Linked DNA regions of Homo sapiens: region 2 is linked to region 1. Evidence: fine-mapped expression QTL. A gene starts in region 1. The other region holds a variant in brackets. All regions are shown on one strand. Distances are from middle to middle.

The links. PIP is the estimated chance that this variant, and not a neighbour inherited with it, causes the effect.
Region 2: its variant is fine-mapped to the expression of INPP5D in whole blood (TOPMed, PIP above 0.99).

The regions. Positions count from the first base shown.
Region 1 is chr2:233,058,799-233,061,696 of GRCh38, reverse strand. INPP5D (inositol polyphosphate-5-phosphatase D) reads right to left here and starts at 1,355. Exons shown (of 27, transcript NM_001017915.3): 1 at 1,085-1,355. The coding sequence starts at 1,218. RefSeq lists enhancers at 711-800, 1,401-1,680 and a silencer at 1,121-1,200.
Region 2 is chr2:233,167,992-233,170,889 of GRCh38, reverse strand. It overlaps INPP5D (inositol polyphosphate-5-phosphatase D), which reads right to left. Exons shown (of 27, transcript NM_001017915.3): 14 at 1,489-1,585; 15 at 726-864; 16 at 286-394. Among named protein-coding and RNA genes, the nearest start is that of ATG16L1, 82 kb to the left of the region's middle. The variant C/A (reference allele first, on the strand shown) is at 1,203.

The DNA of each region.
Region 1 (2,898 bases):
AGGACCTTCACTTTAGGTTGTGGTGAGGATGAAATGGGCTAACAAATGCTTAGCACGACAGGTCCCAGCTGTGAGTCAGTATTCAAAACAGGTCTGGGTTCATCACCCAATTCCCCTCCTGCCTGGAGAAGCACAAGGCCCTGGCTGCTCGGGGGAACATTTCTGCCAGCCCAGGGATGCTACTTGAGATGTTCAGGTGGACACACATTTCCCTGACTACACTCCGGCACTGCCTGAGGCCCCGGCAAAATGATTAGACCAAGAGCTGCAGGGCAAGGCCCCCCTATGATTAGACCGAGAGCTGCAGGGCAAGGGCCTCCTTCAGACGCTGGACAGGAAGGGGGTTTTAGAAAGGAACCTTCAGCAAGTGGCTGGTTCCTCCATTGTTAGCACAGCTGGTACATTCAGTAACATCCCCAACCGGGCAGTGGGAGGAGTTGATGGTGACAGAGACCCAAATTGAGGGGGTGGGGGGTGGGCAGCGGTCACAGCCAAGTGCTCAGGAGAGAGAAGAGGCTGCTCGCTGGTGGTAATGGTGACTTCCTCTGCTCTCAGGCCCCTGAAAGCAGCTTCTGACTGAATGGAAAGTCCTTTCTTGATTAAACTCACCCCATATTCTTGGCTCGCCAAACAACAGCTTCCTCCAGGGGCCCGAAGCCTGGGTGCTCCAGGAAGGGTCCCCCTTGCCACCTTTGCTCTTCTCAGGGTTTCTGAGCTGGGCATCTTTGAGCTGATCTCTAACACACCCACCTCCACAGAGCCCTGAGCTTCCTCCTGGCTCCAAAAGCCCAAACTCCCTTCTCTCGGTCCCCAGACTCCAAGGAAGCCACAAGGTCCATACAGCTCATGGGAAGCTGGGGTGTAACATCAGGCCTCAGAGTGGTTCTGACAGCTCCAAGGCTGCAAAACCTGCCATGAGACCAGCTCTCTGAACTCCAAGGACAAGGTCCATGACAGGGTGGCGGGGAAGTGTGCATGTCAGATCACTCTGTCCTGTGACATAAGAACAACCCATCTCAAAGCTGGGCCCCCTCTAAGCCCCTCTGTCATATCTGTGCCCGGGGAGGGAGCAGGTTGTACTCACAGCACGCAGAGCGCGTATGCCCGGGAGATGGACTCGCTGGCACGCACGAGGAAGCTCCCGTCCTTGCCTGTCCTGGAAAGCAGCTCCTCCGCCTTGGAGCGGGTGATGTTGCCATGGTTCCAGCAGGGGACCATGGTGGGCGTGGGCCTCCTCGGCCGGGCCGGCAGGCACCCCCAGGACCCACACACCACCGAGGGGAGCGGAGGCCCCTCCACTGCAACCTGCCGCCCGTTGCCTCTTGGTGGCCTCGGCTGCTGCCACCAGCTTAACTGACTGACTTCCTGTTTCAGGCGCTCAGTGAGGGAAAGGAAACTGAGCTGCGGAGAACTTCCTCATTACAGAAACCAAGCAAGAGAGAGAGAGAGAAAGAGAGAGAGGGGGGGGCCCTGGCCGTCCACCGTCCCCTACACCCTGCCACGGCTGCCGCGGCTCTCTTGCCAGCCCTCTCCTTCCTGGCAACTGGTCGCAGCGTACAATTGAAGTGTCCAGTGGCAGCTGAAGTCCCCCTGGGTGGAATGACCGGCTCTGGAGACGTCAGGAGAGTTGTGGCCACTTCTGAAGAAGCATGGCCTAGCAGGCATGGGTGGGCCAGAGAAGTGGTTCTTCTGCGGCCGTGCTGACACCCACGTGGGATGCCATGCCCTAGACAGGCCCCCGAGCCTTCTGCTCTCCCTCAGGGCTTTTCAGCACCCACCCTGAACCTCCAAAACACCCAAGGGGGCACAGCTTCTCAACTGGGACTACGGCCTGCCCAGGACAGAGCAAACTTGAGGGGGAGGGGACAGTCGAGCCCCACCCCTCCCCTTTAGAGACTCCCAGCGGCCTGGGTGCTGGGAGACCTTGGCTGCCACCAGCCGAGGGCGCCAAGGTCCAAGTGATGGCTCTGTGACCCCATTACCCTCATTCCCAGGGGCGGGTGGGTGCTGCACGGGCAGCACAGCTCTGATCCCTGCAGTCCAGCTTGGAGACACACAAAGGGAGCTTGGAGGGGATGTGGGCCGTTTACAGCGGGAACATAGGCTGGGTTTTTCCCTGGGCTTCTCCAGGATGCTGGGGAAACAAGCTCGGAGAGGAGAACCCCAAAGCCCCACAGGGCAGGCTGGCCGCCTGGCCAAGGACAACACTGGGTGCTGAGTCCTGCGTCTCAGCAGTCGGGGTGGCCGGTCGGACTGCACCGCCTCCAAGACTGGGCATGGCCACATATGCCCACCACTCAAAGAGGAGCTGCCTCTCCAGGGACCGCCATCCAGGACCAGTCATTTCTGAGGGCTCTGCGGTGGACACCCATCCCTCAGCCCCCAGACCTGGGCACCTTCCGTCCTTGGGTCCGGCCCACCAAGGCCGAAGGGGCACGTGTTGACCCGCTGCACAAAGAGTGCCCCCACCATCCCACATCCAGGCCTTGGCCTCCAGGACATGACAACAGACTCCCTCCAGGAAGGGGCACCAGCCAGGCAGCGCCACCACATTCAAGCTGTGGGAACCTGGTCAAGTTTCTTCTCTCTCTCGGCCTTGGTTTCTTCTTGTCTAACTTGAAGGACGTAGCTCGTAAAAGAGCTCACATGTGCCCAGGGGCTCAACATGTGTCACACTGATGGTTGTCCCAGAACAGGGCCCCCAGCACCTCCCCGCTGAGCAACACACATGGCAGGCGAGTCTGTAGGGCAGACAAAGCACTCCCAGTCAAGGACCTCTGGCCAGGCTGGGAGCCAGGCGTGGGGATAGAGTGGTGATGGGAACTGGCCTCCATGCTCCGGCCCTTCCGCAGCACGCCACCTCTGCAGCAGCCCAGTGTGGAGGCCTCTCATTCCCCA
Region 2 (2,898 bases), 110 kb before region 1:
TTGTTGGCCAGGCTGGAGTGCAGTGGCGCGATCTTGGCTCACTGCAAGCTCTGCCTCCCTGGTTCACACCATCCTCCTGCCTCAGCCTCCCAAGTAGCTGGGACTACAGGCACCCGCCACCACACCCGGCTAATTTTTTGTATTTTTTTAAGTAGAGACGGGGTTTCACTGTGTTAGCCAGGATGGTCTCCATCTCCTGATCTCGTGATCCGCCCGCCTCGGCCTCCTAAAGTGCTGGGATTACAGGTGTGAGCCACCGCTCCCAGCCGGGGTTGCTGCTCTTACCGAAGTGTAGGAAGACCTTCTGCTCCCTCCTCTCTGTGAGCAGCTGGTCGTGGGACAGGAGGTCTGCGTACTGCTGCTGCTTGATTTTCTGGATGATGGTTTCTGCCTCCTGGAACAAGAACATGCCCGGGCCTCTGGTGAGAAGCCCTGCTGATCCAGGCCTGACAAGCTTCGGGGCTGGGGGCGGGCAGCTGGATGACCCGGGCTGCAGAGTGATGGTGGCAGGGTGGCTGTGACAGTTATGGGAACCGGGTGTGAGCACAGGGGAACCGTGAGGAGCGGCTGAGGCTCAGTAATGGAAACAGCGTTGAGCCCCCAAGGGGAGCAGCCGCCTCAGCCCACTTGATTCACATGTCTCCACGACCACCTGCCCCAAGCTGACTCAAGGGAGCCTCCATCTCATACAGCCCCAGCCCCAGCCCCAGGCGGGCAGCCCTTACCCAGGTAGGCAGATCCACACGGTAGTTAAGATCCCCAAACCAGAAGAGGTGCGTGAAGCGGTGAGTGATGTTAAAGGGACTCAGCTTCTTGTCGCCCAGGGCCAGGAACCGGAGAATGTTCATATAGTTTTGGTTTCGCCTAATGCAAGGAAAAAGCGGCCATCTAGCACGGGGTCACTGGTTCCCCCTCCACTGTGGCAGGAAGTCACTCCTGCCATAGGTGTGGGGCGAGGAGCATAGCAGGTGGGGGGAAGTGAGACTTAGCCCTCCAGCCCTGCTGCAGCAGAACTCCTTAGTGTGCAAATATGGCACAGCCAGGATGCAAAGGGCATTTGAGGCCACATTGGGTGTACAGAGGGCAGGGGACCAGGAGCAGCAGCATCTGCTCAGCAGAGAATCAGAACAGTGAAGATTCTAGATGGCTGTCTTCATTCCTGGGCCCCAGCTAGGCAAGATCAGCTTGGATTTGTAAGGAGG[C/A]CCCAGAGGAGGCTTTCTGCTTTAGAAACAGTGCTAGTTAGCGGTCCATCAGGCTAATGACACAAGGAAATATCTTTTCTGACCTTCAGACAAAATTCCTCCACACGTGAGGTCACTATGGTGCTGCAGTTGCCTTTGATGAGACTGTGGTGGGCCCTGAAAGGCCACAGGACATCCACAAGGTCAAAGGCAGGAGCTGAGCAGGTCCTTCTGGTGCTTAAAGGTGTGAGGCGTGTCTGGGCAGACAGCCCAAATGCACACTCTTGGGGGGAAGGAGTTCCATTACCTGAGTTTCTTTTCACTTCCTGAAGTCAAGTGGCTGTTGACGAACCCTAAGGAGGTTCCATTGAACATGAACGACACCCCCACGGCTCCCTTGTTCCCTAAAAAGAAGAGCAGAAAGAAGAATCAAAATATCAAACAGACACACTTGCCAAGGGGCCAGAAATCACCCGAAGGCAGGGTGAGAGGGGCAGTGAGTGAGGAGCTGGCAAGGGATGGGCGAAACAGGGTCGTGCAGGGTGGGAGCCGCTGGGCAGAGAGCGGGAGATGAGAAAATGCAGGAGCAGTGCAGATGGCGGCAGCCTCAGCCTTCTCGGCGGGGCAGAGGAAGGTGGCTGCTGCGATCCTCCCCCGGCATCTCTCTCTAAAGTGACCAGGGTGCTAAGCGGGCAGCCAGAAGCCCTGGGAAGATTCAGAAGGTTCCAGCCTGGGTGGGCTGATCTCCCTCCCAGTGAACTCAAGTTTCCTGGGGAGACCAAAAACCCACACTGAGATCATACCTTTTTCTGCCAACGTTCTGATCTATTCTAGGTCAGTGGTTCCCAAAGGGAGTTCCCTGGACCAGCAGCTGCACATCACCTGGGAACTTCATGGAAGGGCAGATTCTCAGCCCCACCCCAGACCTACTGAATCTGAAATCCTGGGATGGGGCCCAGTAATCTGTGTTTGACAAGCCCTCCAGTGTCAGGGGTGGGCAAATGCTGGCTCACTGCCAGCTACAAATGGTTTTACATTTGTAAATGGTTGGAAACAAATCAAAAGAAAAACCATCTTTTGTCATTCATGAAAATACGAAATTCAAATTTCAGTGTTCGTAAAGAACACGTTACTGGAACACAGCCATGCCTATTGACTTCTGGATTGTCTGTAGCTGCTTTCAGACTACGATGGCAGAGCTGAAGCATTGTGACAGTTGTGTGGCCCAAAGAGCCTAGAATATTCACCATCTGGCCTTCTATGGAAAACGCTTGTTAACCCCTGCTCTAGGTGATTCTGACACATGCAGGTGAGAACCTGCTCTGTCCAATACAGGCACAGGCCACATGTGACTATCAAACACCTGAAATGTGGCTGGTACAAAATGAGACAGGTTGTGAGTGTAAAATACACATTGGAATTGTGGCCTTGGTAAGAAACACAGACTGTAAAATATCTAATAACCTTTTACATTAAATATCTATTGAAATAATTGTATTTTGGATGTATGAAATTCAATAAAATCTATTATTGAAATTAATTTCACTTGTTTTCTTTTTAATGTGGCTACTAGAAAATTTGATCTATTGATTGTAATAAATCAAATTGTAATCTATTTTGATCATAAATCTATTTATTTATGATCTATTTGGCTCCCATCATTTTCTTTTCTTCCTTTCTTTCTTTTTTTTTTTTTTTTTTTTGGAGACAGAGTCTC